2 linked regions of the Homo sapiens genome follow. The protein of the gene in region 2 interacts with the protein of the main gene of each other region in a pairwise test. Each region holds a gene or a part of one and is shown on either strand. Other genes may lie near its edges.

Region 1 (7,891 bases), on a different chromosome or scaffold from region 2:
CTGCCCTGGGCCTAACAAGTGGTCCATTGTGCCCCTGGGAGCCGGCAGGCACGGGCAGCCTGCAGGCGGGTGCCTGGCGTGGCCTGTTTCCTGGGTCCTTGAGCTAGTACCCAGCTGGTCCTGACCCCCTCCCACAGCCGGCCCCTCCTCCCCTATCCCAGGGTCGAGCCAAGAGGGCATGGGCAGCCTAGCCTAGCAGGGCTTTCCCTTCCTTCCTCCTTCCCCACAGAGGACACGCAGAGGAGCAGCTGGCTTGCCCGGAGTCCTCCCACCTTGACCCAAGCATGCAGGGCCCACCCCGCAGCCTCCGCGCTGGGCTCAGCCTGGACGACTTCATCCCTGGCCACCTCCAGTCCCACATAGGGTCTTCCTCCCGGGGGACACGGGTGAGTGAGTCAGTAGGGAGGAGGGTGTCCTGCGGGCCCGGAGTTGGTTGGGACGCTAGCAGGTCAGGTGGGGGCAGGAGGATGAAAGGGATGGAGGGAGGGCTGAAGAGAGCTCTGGGGGGCCTCGCTGGTTTCCCACAAAATCGTCAGGCGGGCCTGGGACTGTCACCGAGGGGTGTGGGCTGTGCCTAGTAGCCATCCCTCCCTCCCGCCCTGCTGGGCCCTGAGCTGCCGCTCCTGGCCCCTCCCCGCAGGTGCCCGTGATCCGGAATGGTGGCTCCAACACCCTTAATTTCCAGTTCCACGACCCCGCGCCCAGGACTGTGTGCAATGGGGGCTACACACCAAGACGAGATGCTTCCCAGCACCCGGGTAGGTCTGCTCAGGAGCCTCATGCTGGAGATGGAGGGTCAGGGCCCTGCCATCTGGCACTGCCCTGTGTCAAGCGGGAGGGGCAGCAGCTGGAGATGGGGTTCTCAAGGCCATGAGGAGGTTCCTCAGAGGCCTCTGGGCTCACTATGAGCCCCTCCCTGCGGAGCCTGCTGACTCTGCAAGAGACACCCGCTTGGGGAGAGCAGGCTGATGCATCCCTTCCCCTGCCCTCCAGCCTGGTGCCAGGGAAAGGAAGCGTGCAGGAGCCCTGGGCGCCGGAGGACCTCCCACAGGGACTGGGGATGGAAGGGTGGAGGTGATGTGGGTATCTGTTGGCTTGGGAAGGGGTGGAGACTGTCCCATTCAGGCCCAACAGGCTACCCAGCAGGAGGTTAGAGAGGCAGTTCTAGATCCCAGTCCAGAGGTCCTGGGAACTCCTGGGTGCAGGCCAGCCCTGAACATGTCTCTCCTAAAGTGACATCCTTTATCAAGCATTCCCCTAAGACAGGTGCTGTGTAAAGGAATTTATTCATTTAACAATTATCCAGCCTGGGCAACATAGCAAGACCCTGTCTCTATCAGCCTGGATGACACAGCAAGACCCTGTCACTTAAAACACACACACACTGAGAGGCTGAGGTGTGTGGATGACCTGAGGTCAGGAGTTCGAGACCAGCCTGGCCAACATGGTGAAACCCCATCTCTAATAAAAATACAAAAATTTGCTGGGTGTGGTGGCGGGTGCCTGAAATCCCAGCTACTTGGGAGGTTGAGGCAGGAGAATCACTTGAACCTGGGAGGTGGAGGTTGCAGTGAGCTGAGATCGTGCCACTGCACTCCAGCCTGGGCAACAAGAGCAAAACTGTCTCAAAACAAAAACAAAAACAAAACAAAACCAAAAAAAACACCCACACAATTATGGAACACCCAGAGCGTGCTGGACACTGTAAAAACACTTTACGAGGCTCACCTCGTTTAACCCCTCGATATCCTGACAAAGTAGGGGTGATGATGACTGACAGCTTCCCAGTAAGGAACCCCATTCGCAGAGATGTTCAGCCATAGAGGCTGAGCTGCAATTCACACACTTGTACATCTGGCCTCAAAGCCCTTATTCTGCTGCCCTAGCTACTTAGAGGCTAACACTTATGGGTAAGTTGAGGACTCAGTCACAACCATGTCTGGGGAATGGGTTTCTGACCTTCACTGAGAGCCTCTCGACTGTGTGCCAGGCACTGTGCTGGGTACAGTCACACACGCTAGATGTCACTGAATCCTTGTCACAATGACCCTTGTTTTACAGAAGTGGAAACTGAGACACTGAGAAGGTGACTGATGTACCCCAGGCCATGGCAGCCAATAGGTGGTAGAGCTGGGGTCTGAATTCAAGTCTGTCCCCTCTAAGCCCAGCATCTTTACTGCCACACCCCAGCTGGGATGTCCCCTGCATTCTCTACAAGTAATGATTTCCAGACCTTATTCTGAAAGCACTTAGGATAGTCCCAGGAAAGAAGGATGGGGGTAGGGCCAGGCACGGCATTCTCAAGATCAAATCCATTTAAATTCACTTAAACAAACAGAGGCCCGTGGTGCTCTGAGTCATCCACTCAAACAAACAAGGCGATGTTGAAACTTTGAACCCACAGAGATCCATGCTCTGAGGAGCTAAGGGACACACAGGTTCAGGTGGAGACCCCTGCCTTTCACTAATGCTCTCCTGCACGCACCCAACAGACCCTGCGTGGTATCAGACCTGGCCAGGCCCTGGGAGCAAGCCCTCTGCAAGCACAAAGATCCCTGCCTCCCAGCACACCCAGAACTGGTCAGCCACGTGGACCAAGGACAGCAAGCGTCGGGACAAGCGCTGGGTCAAGTACGAGGGAATCGGGCCCGTGGACGAGAGCGGCATGCCCATTGCCCCCCGATCCGTGAGTCCAGGGCTGGGGGCCACGGAGAGATGGGGCCCAGGGATCTACAGGGAGCTGCACTTCTGTGCATTAAAATGGGGGTGGGGCAATAAAGGCCGCACCCAAACCATCCCAGATTAAGCAGGGGTTCAACCGTGGTGGGGTTCAGCGGCTGTAAACCTCATAAAGCTGCAGACACCCTCGTGTGCCTGAGTTGCTCAAGTGGTTTGTGCGGGGTACAGATCTAGAACTCTCATCAGGGCCTCAAAGGTAGAGAACCCCTGCTGTAAGGCCTGAGGCTGCAGGGGACCCTCTCTTAGTTTCATATCCCCAGGGCCTGTCACGACGCTCATGAAATGGTTGCTGAATGAATGACTGACCGGCCGAATGAGTGAGTGAGTCTTGTGTGAGAAGGTCTCTCACTGTGGCAAGCGTGGAAGGATCCGGGGGTCCAGTTAGGACTGGGGATACCCTGCCCTTTTCCATCCACCTTTGTGTCTTGAGCCAGCTCCATTTTCTCATCTGGAAATTGGAGCTGGTAACATTCCCTTCCTGTTTTGAGGCTGTTTTGAGGCTTGGATGAAGCAGGTGATGTGAAACACGCATCTCACTCCTACATTATTGCTGTCATTTTTGGCCCAGGTGCAGTGACTCACGCCTGTAATCCCAGCACTTTGGGAGGTCAAGGCGGGAGGATTGCTTGAAACCAAGAGTTCCAGACCAGCCTGGGCAACATAGTGAGACCCTGTCTCTATAAAAAAAAAAATAAAATAAAATTAGCTAGGCAAGGTGGTGCACGACTGTAGTTCCAGCTACTCAGGAGGCTGAGGCAGGATGATTGCTTGAGCCCAGGAATTGGAGGCTGCAGTGAGCTATGATCATGCCACTGCACTCCAGCCTGTGTGACACAGGAGACCCTGTCTCCCCACAAAAGAAAAATGTTCTTTGTAGAAACACTAGACATAAAGAAAAGCAAAGAGAAAAAATGTAAATTGCCCCAAATCTCATAACATCATTATTGCATACACTTCGATGGAGATCTTGTCATATATCTTACTTATATAGGACGTGTTACATGAAGCTATTGTTATTAAAGAGATCGCAAGAGAAGCATTTCCCAGCCCACCTATGGGGGGTTCAGGGATGGCCAGAGAAGGGACTCACTAGGGAAAGATTTTTGTGGCTTGAAATTGGGAGGGTGAATAAGCAGGGAGGACTGACTTTGCATTTTCTGATCCCAGAGCGTTGACAGACCCAGAGACTGGTACCGGAGAATGTTCCAGCAGATTCACCGGAAAATGCCAGGTAAGATACCCTTCCAGGGCCCTCTCCCTGCCAAAGTGGATTCTGGCCCCTGGGGCTTGGAGAGACAGGGAAAGAAAAGGGGACTTAGCTGCTCAAGGGGTTCTTCTCCACCTTCTCCCAGGCTCTAATGAGTAGTCCTGAAAATAGGCAGTCCCCTCCCTGTACTCGGGGCCAGCAGCGGTCTCCAGAGCATCCCCAAGAAGAACATTGACCAGCCACTGTCCCACAGTGTCCTCTGAGGGGACTGAGAAGCCATTCCTTTCCTTAAGTCCCTCTCTGATTTCCCTGCCAAGCTGGAATGCCACTGTTAGCGGTCATTCCCTTACTGGAGGCATTGCTTTCTTCCACAACTCAAAATGCAGCCAACCCTGGGGGTGCCTATGAGCTGGCTCCGAGGTCACCCATCCATTCAGTGAGTCCTTGACCATCTATTGAGCATGTACCACATGCTGAGCACTATTCTAGGTGCCAAAGATCAAAGGAAGTCACACAATAAACAGACACACCTTTGACATGACAGATGGTGGAAAGGGCTAGGGAAAAATAAAGCCAGACTGGGAGAGTGCCCCATGCAGGGAGGCTGCTCCTTCACCCAGGAGCGGCCAGGAAGGTCATTTGTAAGCGGTGTTTGATCAGACCATGGAGGGAGTGAAGGAGTCGGCCTGGCAGAGCTGGGGGAAGCATTCCAGCAAAGGGAGCTCCGAAGACCCAGAGGTAGAAGCATGTTCTGGACGGGCAAGGAGAGCCTGGCCTGGAGCGAGGAGCATGTGGTGGGAGATGGAGTCAGAGAGGTGGTGGTGTCAGGGTACGTGGGGCCTTGTGGGCCATTATAAGGACTTCAGCTTTTACGGTGCAAATAAGGAGGAGCCACTGAGCGGAAGAGTGCCATGCTCTGACAAGTAATGGCTGAAAAGATTGTGCCTGGCTGTGGGGTGGGAAAGGAATGGTGGAACCAGTTCCCTTGCCTGGTAAGGGCTAGGGAGAAAAGGCCACCTTTACAACTTTGCTTCAATCCAGGGGAGAGATAATCGTGTGTTAGACCAGGGCGGTAGCAGTGGCCCTGGTGGGACAGGATGAGACTCTGAATACACTGCAGTCACTGGAATTTGCTGATGGATTGGACGTGGCTTGGAAGAGAGAGTCAAGGATGGTTTTAAACCTCAGCAAGTTGAAGATTGGAGTTGCCATTTGTCAAAACAGAAAAGACTGTAGGAGTAGCATTCACAGGCCGGGCGCGGTGGCTCACGCCTGTAATCCTAGCACTTTGGGAGGCCAAGGTGGGTGGATTGCCTGAGCTTAGGAGTTCGAGACCAGCCTGGGCAACATGGTGAAACCCCATCTCTACTAAAAAATACAAAAAAGTAGCTGGATGTGGCGGCATGCACCTGTAATCCCAGCTACTCGAGAAGCTGAGGCAGGAGAATTGCTTGAACCTGGGAGGCGGAGGTTGCAGTGAGCTGAGACCATTCCACTGCACTCCAGCCTGGGCAATAGAGCAAGACGCTGTCTCTAAAAAAAAAAAGAAAAAAAGAAAAGAGGTGTTCAGTTTTAGACACATGTTCCCTCTGAGTGAAGAGGTTGAGTAAGCAGATGAATATCCAAGTCTGCAGTTCACGGGACAAGGTCTAAAACTGCAGATGGAAATACCTGGGACTCATTCAAAAGAGATTTTGGGACCAGCCTGGCCAACATGGCGAAACCCTGTCTCTATCAAATATACCAAAATTAGTTGGGCATGGTGGTGTGCACCTGTAATCCTAGCTACTCCAGAGGCTGAGGCAGGAGAATTGCTTGAACCTGAGAGGCAGAGGTTGCAGTGAGCTGAGATCACCCCACTGCACTCCAGCCTGGGTGACTCAGTCTCAAAAAAAAAAAAAAAAGAAGAGAGAGATTTTGATTTAAAGTTTCCCCAGTAATTCTAGTGGGGAAACTTTAAACTTTTAACTAGCAGCCAAGATTGTGAAACATGGGAATAGATGGCGTTTTAAAAGCCTTAAGACTAGCTGGGTGTGGTGGCACACACCTGCAGTCTCAGCTATTTGGCAGGCTGAGGAGTTCAATTCAATTCCTGGGAGCCCAGGAATTCAAGTCCAGCTTGGGCAACATAGCATGATCCCGTCTCTGAAAAACAACAATCCATAAGACTAGACAAGATCACCTAGGGAGATAGAGAGACAAACAGACCCCAGGACTGAGCCCCCACGCACCTGGATGCTTAGAAGTTTGAGAGATGAGGCGGAACCAAAAAGGCAACTGAGAAGGTAGAGCCAGGGAGGTAGGAGGAAAACGGAGAGATCTCCCTGGGGCCAAGTGGAAAGGGAATTCCAAAAGAAAAATGTGACCAGTGGTGACAAATGCAGCTGATGGGTTGAGTAAGATGAATACTTAGAATTGACTGTCAGATTTGGCAACGTGGAGGTCACCAGCATCCTTGATAAGAGTGAGTGGTTGGGCAGTGGTGAGCAAAAGCCTGTTTAGGGAGACGGGGAGTAGGGGGATTGGAGATGGTGTGGTCTTTATGGTCACTGGTTACAGTTTACTATGGGGGAAAGCAGACAAATCCAGGAGTCAGAGGAGGGTGTGGGGTCCAGTGAGGGGTGATGTGGCTGGCGTTTAGGCAGGTGCCGTTGCAGCGCATGCGTGTGTGTGTGTGTGTGTGTGTGTGTGTGTGTGTGTGTGTGCGCGCGCGCACGCGCCGTGGGGAGCAGTGGGTCAGTAGCTCTTTCCAGGAAGCCCCAGAAATTCCCAGGCACCTTGAGGAGCTAGGAGTGGGTCTTGGCAAATGGGGAAGGAAAGCGTTTGGAAGAGGGTGCAAGTCGAGTTTCCCCAGCCTGAGTGGTGAGGGCAAGTCCACAAAGGTCAGGAGAGGGTGTGTGTGGGAACAGGGAGGGAGGAGCAGGAGGGCTTGGGCAAGGCGGCTGCCCGCTTGGCTCGCTTAGGCCCCAAGCCTGCCAGAGGCATTTCAAGCCCTCCAGAGAGCTGCCCTCCTAATTCCTTCCCTCCCTTGGGACATTCTTCAGGCCCTGACTCAGCCCTCAGCCCCCTACTCTAGGGATGTTGGGAGCGGCTGAGGTTGCCTCCCAGGGCACCCTGCCCTTGCTTTCTGCCCCGTCCCATGACCTGGTCCCTTCTGCTCCTGCAGACTTGCAGCTGGACTGGACCTTCGAGGAGCCACCCAGAGGTGAGGGGATGCGGGCCCACCTGCCTGCCATAGCCCTGCGCCTGCGTCCGCCCCTCCCTGGGGCTGGGACTCGCAGCCCCGCCTGGCTTTGGGGCTCTCCAGTTGGCTCAGTTCAACCTGAGAGGTTTTTATAGCTCATTTCCAGAGCACTTCAAATCCCCCGGTAGGTGGTAATTAACAGCCTCAGCTTGCACGGGGAACGCGCGCTCTGCCACTCCCTGGCCGGGATTTCTCTGGGCCTCCCTTTCCTCATCTATAAGATGAGATCATCACCTACTCGGAGTTGTTTTGAAGATGTAGTAAATGTCGTAAAGCTCTGAGGGCAATGCCCGCGTTCAGTGTCCCTGAGCACCAACCACCCTGCCCCCACCATCCACCCAGGAGCAAGGGGGTGGTGCTGAAACTCTAAATAATCACCCAGGCACCCTCAGCCCCAGTCACGGCCTGTCTCCTCCCACCTTCAATGCTTTCCTCGTGTACCTCCTCTGCAGACCCCAGGCATCTAGGAGCCCAGCAAAGACCTGCCCACAGGCCCGGCCCGGCAACATCTTCCAGTGGGTGAGCACAGTGGGGCGGGGCCGAGGGCTGCGGAGGGGCGCGGCCCGCGAGACACCATGGGACGGGCGCCCCCTCGTGACCACAGCCGGCACAGCCTCGGAGCCCAGCCAGGAGTGGGGTCTCACTTCCGTGTCCGTCTGGGCTCTGTCCCATCTCTGGGTCTCCACCACCCCCATAGACTC
Region 2 (8,637 bases):
ATTAAAAAAAGATATCCTGTTTTAATTTGCACTTATTTAATTATAGGTGAAGCTAAACATCTTTTCCTATGTTTATTGCCCAGTTGTATTTCCTCTTCAATTTCTTGCCTATTCAAGTTTTTTTGTTTATTTCTTTACTGAGTTGATCATTTTTTTTCTTTCTGGCTTGTAAGGGCTCTTTGTACATCAGAAAAATTCTATTGTCTTCCCAATCTCCTACAATGTTAATTTCATCCTCTCGCTACTGGAATTTTACTCTCAATTTATTATAAGTTTCTACTGCAAAGCTCTTTTTTATTCTTAATTCTCCATGATCACTTCAGCATTCGGGATTACTGAACAGCTCTTTCTTAAAATTTTCTACTCACTTCCTTTTCATAATACTGATTTATTTCATTTCTCTCTGTTTCTTAAATTAAGAAAAATTATCTTAATTTTTCTCCTCTATCTTTACTTTCTATTCCTCTTCCTATTAACGTACCCAAAGTTATATCCATTGTTCTCTCTATACCAGAGTTTCTTGCTCTGTTACAGAGGCTGGAGTGTAGTGGCACAATCACGGCTCACCACAACCTTGACCTCCTAGGCTAAAGCGATCCTCCTGCCTCAACCTACTAAGTAGCTGGAACTATAGGGGCATGCCACCATGCCTGGCTAATTACAAAAAAAAATTCTTTTTTTTTTTTTTTTGAGACGGTCTCACTCTGTCACCCAGGCTGGAGTGCAGTGGCGCAATCTCAGCTCACCGCAACCTCCACCTCCAGGGTTGACGCCATTCTCCTGCCTCAGCCTCCTGAGTAGCTGGGACTACAGGTGCCCGCCACCACGCCCAGCTAATTTTTTTGGTTTTAGTAGAGACAGGTTTTCACTGTATTAGCCAGGATGGTCTCGATCTCCTGATCTCGTGATCTTTCCGCCTCGGCCTCCCAAAGTGCTGGGATTACAGGTGTGAGCCACCGCACCCGGCCAAAAAAATTCTTTTATAGAGACAGGGTCGCACTATGTTGCCCGGGCTGGTCTCAAACTCCTGGGTTCAAGTGATCATTCCACCTTGGCCTCCCAAAGTACTGGGATTACAGGCATGAACCACCGTGGCCAGGTGCCTTTTTTTAAAAATTTTTTTGAGACAGTCTCGCTCTGTCACCCAGGCTGGAGTGCAGTGGCCCAATCTCGGCTCACTGCAAGCTCCACCTCCTGGGTTCACGCCATTCTCCTGCCTCAGCCTCCCGAGTAGCTGGGATTACAGGCGTGTGCCACCATGCCCCATCTCTACTAAAAATACAGCCAGGGATGGTGGCACATGCTTGTAATCCCAGCTACTCAGGAGGCTGAGGTAGTAGAGTCGCCTGAACCTGGGAGGCAGAGGTTGCAATGAGCCAAGATTGTGCCACTGAACTCTAGCCTGGGTAACAGAGTGAGACTCCATCTCACAAAAAAAAAAAAAAAAAAAAAAAAAAAAAAAGATATATGTAGCTAAATGCTCATTGCTGCTTTATTTATAATAATAAATGATGAATGTTATCCCAATGTCCACAGGTAGTTACTAATTAAATGCTGGCATATTTGGACAGTGGAATATTCTGCTGGTTAAAAATTAACCAGTAAAGGGTCGGGCACGGTGGTTCACACCTGTAATCCTAGCACTTTGGTAGGCCAAGGCGGGCGGATTGCCCGAGTTCAGAAGTTCAAGACCAGCCTCGGCAACATGGTAAAACTCTCTCTCTACTAAAAATATAAAAATTAGTCGGGCATGGTGGCACATGCCTGTAGTCCCAGCTACTTGGGAGGCTGAGGCACGAGAATCGCTTGAACCTGGGAGGTGGAGGTGGCAGTTAGCCGAGACTGAGTCACCACACTCCAGCCTGGGTGACGGAGTGAGATTCCTGTCTTAAAAAAAAAAAAGGCTGGGTGCAGTGGCTCACACCTGTAATCCCAGCACTTTGGGAGGCCGAGGCAGGCGGATCACGAGGTCAGGAGTTCAAGACCAGCCTGGCCGACATGGTGAAACCCCATCTCTACTAAAAATACAAAAATTAGCTGGGCATGGTGGTGCGTGCCTGTAATCCCAGCTACTAGGGAGGCTGAGGCAGGAGAATCGCTTGAACCCAGGAGGCGGAGGTTGCAGTGAGCCACGACTGCGCCACTGCACTCCAGCCTGGCGACAGAGCAAGACTCCATCTCAAAAACAAAACAAAACAAAACAAAAAGACAACAACAAAAAAAAACCCAAGTAAAGTAAAAAATTAAAGTAGTGGTTAAAAAATTAAAGTAGGGCCATGTGCATTGCCATAGAAAAAAGTGAAAAAGGTTATGTAGTATAAACTTGTTTTCATTTAAAATTATATACACATATGTGAATATATACTTAGAAAAATAAAAATAAAAGGTCAGGCGCGGTGGCTCATGTCTGTAATCCCAGCACTTTGGGAGGCCAAGGTGGGCAGATCACGAGGTCAGAAGATCGAGACCATCCTGGCTAACACGGTGAAACCTCGTCTCTACTAAATATACAAAAAATTAGCCAGGCATGGTGGCACACGCCTGTAGTCCCAGCTATTCGGGAGGCTGAGGCCAGGAGAATCTCTTGAACTTGGGAGGTGGAGGTTGCAGTGAGCCAAGATCGTGCCACTGCACTCCAGCCTGGGCAATGGAGCGAGACTCCACCTCAAAAAAAAAAAAATACACCAAAGTCTTAATTATCGGGGGAAGTAGGATTATAAGAGATTTCACTTTCTACAGAAATTGTTAATATTCATATTACTGTTGTCAGCATTGTTGTCATAAAGCAATTAAAAGTGCCTAACACATAGAAGCTACTATATAAATATTACATTATACTAAAATAGTTTTGGGAATATTTTTGCGTTGTTTTTTGGCAATGAGCATGAATTATTTTTATAAGCAGGAAAAAATAAATACATGAGGTGGTGAAAATGCAGGTAGTATTTGATCATTTTAAATGTAATGAAGGGTTAAAAATGAGAGCTAGAGGATGCCAAAGGGTCCTCCATGCATACTTGAAAGGACCTAGTTGAAAGCGGAAGGTTGATAATGATAAAGCCCCAGGCAGAAGAGAATGGGAAACTCTAATGATAACATGAACTGATATTTAATGAATGTTTACCCTGGGCCAGGTGTTCCAATTGCTTTTGAGCCCACAGGAAGGAAAGGTTAATCTTTTCCTTTGAGATTAGAACCAAGAAATTATTTTATTTATTTATTTATTTATTTTTTAGGTGGAGTCTTGCTCTTGTCGCCCAGGCTGGAGTACAGTGGCCTGATCTCAGCTAACAGCAACCTCTGCCTCCCGGGTTCAAGTGATTCTCCTGCCTCAGCCTCCTGAGTAGCTGGGATTACAGGCGCCCACAAGCACGCCTGACTAATTTTTGTATTTTTAGTAGAGACGAGGTTTCACCATGCTGGCCAGGCTGGTTTTGAACTCCTGACCTCAAATGATCCGCCCGCCTCAGTCTCCCAAAGTGCTGGTATTACAGGCATGAGCCATCGCGCCCAGCCCAGAGCAAAGATTCTTAACCTCAGTTTCCTGAAATTATATCCTAAATTTGTTGGGTAAGTGCATTTTTTAAAGTACAAGAGAAGGCCCATAAGTTACATCAGATTTTAAAAAGGGTGTTTGAGCCCCCCTCTTCCAAAGATAGAAGAATCAAGGAAGAAAGGGTAAAACATACATACATATATATATATATATATATATATATATATATATATATATATATTTTTTTTTTTTTTTTTTTTTTTTTTTTTTTGAGACGGATTCTCACACTCTGTTGCCCAGGCTGGAGCGTAGTCGTGCAGTCTTGGCCTACTGCAACCTCTGCCTCCTGGGCTCAAGTGATCTTCCCGCCTCAGCCTCCCAAGCAGCTTGAGAGAACAGACATGTGCTACCTCGCCCGGCTAATTTTTGTATTTTTAGTAGAGACGGAGTTTTACTACATTGAGCAGGCTGGTCTCGAACTCCTGACCTCAAGTGATCCGCCCACCTCGGCCTCCCAAAGTGCTGGGCGTGAGCCACCGCGCCCGGCCGAAAGATTGGTTTTAAAAACGAGTATTTTGAGATGATGAGAAAACGAGAGGGTTTCTGCCAGTTGTCCTTTCTCCCAGTGAAACAGGATTAGAGATTCTCTTTAATGACAGTAAAATTTGGTGATTGTGACATTTCCAAGTTCTGTTGATTGATTCATCATCTTCCCTCCATCATACACGTCTAAGGGCAGAGTGAACTTCCATCCTGAAGGCTCCGCGCTTAGTTTTCGCAGATTAATAGCTCACCAAGAATTTATCATCTTTTCTTTCCACTAACTCGAAACCAATCTAAATTCTTTCCAAACATCTTCTCAACGTAGTCTCCTTTGATGAAATTTACTGTTTCGGATTCTAGACTTGGCTCTTACCAACTTAACTTTCGGTTAATAGCTTAATACCTCTGATTCAGGTTTTTGCATTTGTCAACTACCATTGAATGATAATTTCAATGAGTTCGTTCTTATGAGGATCAAATGAAATAACATCTGTGAAAACCTCTTACAAAGTTTAAGCAAATAGTGCTAAGCAATCACCAAGCGTTAACTACTAATTTTCAGTGTTAGGTAAATTTTAAAAGCTTTCCGGAGAATTGGCGTCCTGCACACCAGTCTCGTTCCAAAATAATGCAGGCGGGGGCTGGGGTGGGGGCGCTCCTCTCGGACTGAGGCTATGTCTTTCGCTCCTTTTGTCTTTTCCAGGCATTAGAACTGTCATGGCGCCTTCAAGAAGAGGTAGGAGGCCCTCTCTGCGTCCAGCAGAACCATCTGGGGCACCTGGACCGGGCGGTGGGGTGGACAGAGAGACGAGCCCCAGCTGGGACCGAAAACATCGACCCCTCCGAGAGGTCTCGGCCGGACCGGCGCAAGGGGAGGAGAGCGGGTGGAAGCCCACCCCAGCGAACGCCCGAGGGCCGGGCCCCGCCCACCCAGAACGTCACCCAATGGAAACCTGCCGGCGGTGCGGCACCGCCCATCGTTGGTCCGGGCGCCGCGAGGGCGGGGCCCGCAGTTCGGTTGCGCTGCGGAGCGCAGCTGTGAGGGAGTCGCTGTGATCCGGGGCCCCGGAACCCGAGCTGGAGCTGAAGCGCAGGCTGCGGGGCGCGGAGTCGGGAGGTGAGCGCCCAGGGAAAAGAGGGCCCGGGAGGGAGGGGTTCGCGAGAGGACGGAAGGATCGGCCTCCGAGGCCCGGGACGGTGGGACCCGCCAGTCGGGTGCTGAAGGCGGCCCTGCTCACTCAGTAGCCCAGGCCCGATCGGGCCCTGCCTGCTGGAGCCGAGGGGCCGCTTCGGCCCCGCAGTCGCTGCTTAGCCCTCCCTGGCGTCTCTGGCTTGGCGGCGGCGCCCCGGGATTCTGCGGGCGCGGGTCGGGAGGCCCTGGCGTTCGCTTGGAACTCCGGCTGCGAGAGGCGGGGCCCGGCGGGTGGGGGCGGGGGCGGGGGCGGCGGTCGCGGCCCGGCGGCCTGCGGAAGCTCGGCGGCCTGGCCTGGCCTGCTCGCGGGGAGGTGCGCAGACTGCGCGGGGGCGTGGCCTGCGCCCCTGACTGCGCTGTCGGTCCGGCCTTTGATGAGGTGGCCGCCGCTGGCTCCCTGGGCCCCAGCCTGGTTCCCGCGCGGGCCGCGGCTGCCTTCCAGACGCAGGGCATGCGACCTGTTGGAGTGTGAAATTCTAGGGGCCGGGTTCCTCCCCAGAGCGGTTTTATTTCCGACTGGACTGTGCTGCGGGTCTCAGAGGCCCTCTGGTCCGTTCAGGGTGAGGACAGCTGAGAGGCCTGGGCCCGTGAGCTCTTGCAGAGGAGTTGACACGCAGAGGGGCTGCTGTCCAATAAACGAAAGTGTCGGGGAAAAACTTTGCAGGGCGATCTGCATTACTCCAAAGTGAACACACTGCATGTCTCAGGGTGGCTGGAGGCGGCGAGAATCCCCTTATGGGAGTATATGAGCTTTTCCATGTGTTATCTCTTTAAAACCTCTCAGCGGCTCCGAGACAAAACTCCCAGTGTCGCAGAGGTTTCTTCATCAATAGGAGTAGTGCTGGAGAATCTTGGGCACTGCCCTCATTTTGCCTGCGAAGGAAAAATTAGGAAGGGATAAAAAGTCACAAAAATTAGGAAGGTGGGGGGGATAAGCAAATTCCAAGGGCATCTATCTCTGATGAAGGGTTGGTGTCTCCTGTGGTGCCCTACTGTGGATTAGTTATTTGTGTCCTCGGTCCAGAAGTTTCTCTGGAGCCCATTGGCTACAGCTTTCCTGTATTAGAATTCTACTGTTATTTCCTACTGTAGTCTGGCTGGGAATTTTATTTAGTTGTTCAGATTTTAGATGCATTCAGTGAATGCAGCTGCTCAAGGAAGTAACTAATAGTGTCTTACCATTTTCTTAGCTACTTTTCAGAAGAAGGAACATGATCTCTAACAGAAGTTTTCTGGTAGATTACTAAAACAGGCAGATAGTAGCTTTCCTGGCTGGCTGAGTTAAATCCCTCTCCAGCGATCCTCCCACTTCAGCCTCCTAAGTAGCTGGGATTACAGGCATGAGCCAGCGCGCCTGGCAAATCTCTCTAGAATAAGTCAGGATCTAGAAAATAACATAGGGAAAGAATATCTTGCCAGATTTCCTCTGTACTGCCTATTGCTCTTTGGTATTTACTAGACTGTCTTCTAATAAAAATCTCCTGAGTTGAGTTAAACGTAGTGTAGATTGGGGGCAGAGATGGGCACAAATGGGCATCAGAGAGTTCTAAAAATAAATGTGGGCTTTTCAAAAGATTGGTGTGTTGACTGGAGACTTCTGAACTTAGAGGAGCACATTTAGTTTCCAGGGTATCAGTTTCTTTTTCTTTTCTTTCTTTTTTTCTTTTTTTTTTTTTTTTTGAGTCATAGTCTCACTCTGTCACCCAGGCTGGAGTGCAGTGGCGCCATCTGGGCTCACTGCAACCTCCGCCTCCTGAGTTCAAGTGATTCTCGTGCTTCAGCCTCTTGAATAAGCTGGAATTATAGACGTGCGCCACCACACCCTGCTAATTTTTGTATATTTTTGTATTTTTTTGTTGCCCAGGCTGGTCTCGAACTCTTGAGCTCAAGCAATCTGCCTGCCACCATCTCCCAAAGTGCTGGGATTACAGGCGTGGGCCAGCTTGCCTGGCCCAGGGTATCTCTTTCATACTGTAGAGAACTCTCTTGAGCTGAGCACACACAGGTTCCAACTCCTTCACAGTCTTTATTCTTAGAGATATGAAATAACATTAAGTGGTTGTCTTGTGACTTTTTGTACAAGTTAATGGCATTTAGCTCTCAATAATTCTTTTTCTTCAAGTACCCATGACCCTGAAAATGTTATGCTGTATAATACTTTTTCCTATAAAAGTTGTACCTTGAGTTATTTATACTTGTAAGAAATAACCTAGGCTGGGTGTGGTGGCTCACGCCTGTAATCCCAGCACTTTGGGAGGCTGAGGCGGGCGGATCATGAAGTCAGGAGATTGAAACCATCCTGGCTAACACGGTGAAACCCCATCTCTACTAAAAATACAAAAAATTAGCTGGGTGTGGTGGCACGTGCCCGTAGTCCCAGCTACTCGGGAGGCTGAGGCAGGAGAATCGCTTGAACCTGGGAGGCGGAGGTTGCAGTGAGCCGAGATTGCACCACGGCACTCCAGCCTGGGTGACAGAGTGAGACTCCATCCCCTCTGCCAAAAAATAAATAACCTATATCAGATCTAGTCCCCCAGAGAATGGAAACTTCAGAGCCTTTGAGCAATGTGAATGAAATGAAAGCTGGAAGCTTAAAGTCTTAGCTCTGGCTTGAATTTGTGGCTGCTTGAATGTGGGCATTTATTTTGTTTGTTATTGTATCTCAAGGACTTAGCCCAGTGCTTGGCCCACAATAAATGCTTAATAAAACATCTGTTAAATGAGTGAATGAAAAAAAAAATGTTGTTAACCAATACCCATTTGTCACACTCACATCACAGGAAAGGTGAGGTCATCAGGGATGAAGTCACTAACAACTGCCAGTCATGTGCCCCAAGGGTAGCCTCACCATGGACTAGTGGGCTTGTTCTGTGTAGAGAAGGGATGGATAGTGAATGCCAAGGTTAGTTCTAGCTGGATAAATTAGCCAAGGGTTTCAGCTGGATAAGTTGGCTGAGGGTGCTACAGGTCTAGCCTTAAGGCTGTCTCACTGAAACATTTTGGAGTCTGGAGTCATCTGTTCTGAATAGCGCCCACATAGTTTATATTTTTTTATTTTTTGAGACAGAGTCTCACTCTGTTGCCCAAGCTGGAGTGCAGTGGCACGATCTCAGCTCACTGCAACCTCTGCCTCCCGGGTTCAAGTGATTCTCCTGCCTCAGCCTCCTGAGTAGCTGGGACTACAGGTGCGTGCCACCACACCCAGCTAATTTTTTTATTTTTAGTAGAGACAGGGTTTTGCCATGTTGGTCAGGCTGGTCTCGAACTCCTGACCTCAGGTAATCCACCTACCTCGGCCTCCCAAAGTGTTGGGATTAAAGGCGTGAGCCACTGTGCCCGTCCACACATAGCTTAATTCTTGAGCACAGTAAAAATAGGGTGTACTTGGGGATTCAAAGGGAAGCCT

Evidence for each region. The genes of interacting proteins can lie anywhere in the genome.
Region 1: the proteins of NRBP1 (region 2) and SORBS3 interact in binary tests that used the Homo sapiens proteins (3 or more experiments, as listed by UniProt).

The regions. Positions count from the first base shown.
Region 1 is NC_000008.11:22,554,223-22,562,113, forward strand, and holds part of SORBS3 (vinexin), read left to right. Parts: intron 1-229; coding exon of another isoform or gene 230-284; coding exon 285-386; intron 387-640; coding exon 641-758; intron 759-2,492; coding exon 2,493-2,686; intron 2,687-3,906; coding exon 3,907-3,970; intron 3,971-7,112; coding exon 7,113-7,151; intron 7,152-7,642; coding exon 7,643-7,709; intron 7,710-7,891. UniProt on the Homo sapiens protein: Vinexin alpha isoform promotes up-regulation of actin stress fiber formation. Vinexin beta isoform plays a role in cell spreading and enhances the activation of JNK/SAPK in response to EGF stimulation by using its third SH3 domain.
Region 2 is NC_000002.12:27,423,576-27,432,212, forward strand, and holds the start of NRBP1 (nuclear receptor-binding protein), read left to right. Parts: upstream 1-5,055; 5' UTR 5,056-5,156; intron 5,157-8,637. UniProt on the Homo sapiens protein: Required for embryonic development. Plays a role in intestinal epithelial cell fate and proliferation, thereby involved in the architectural development of the intestine potentially via the regulation of Wnt-responsive genes.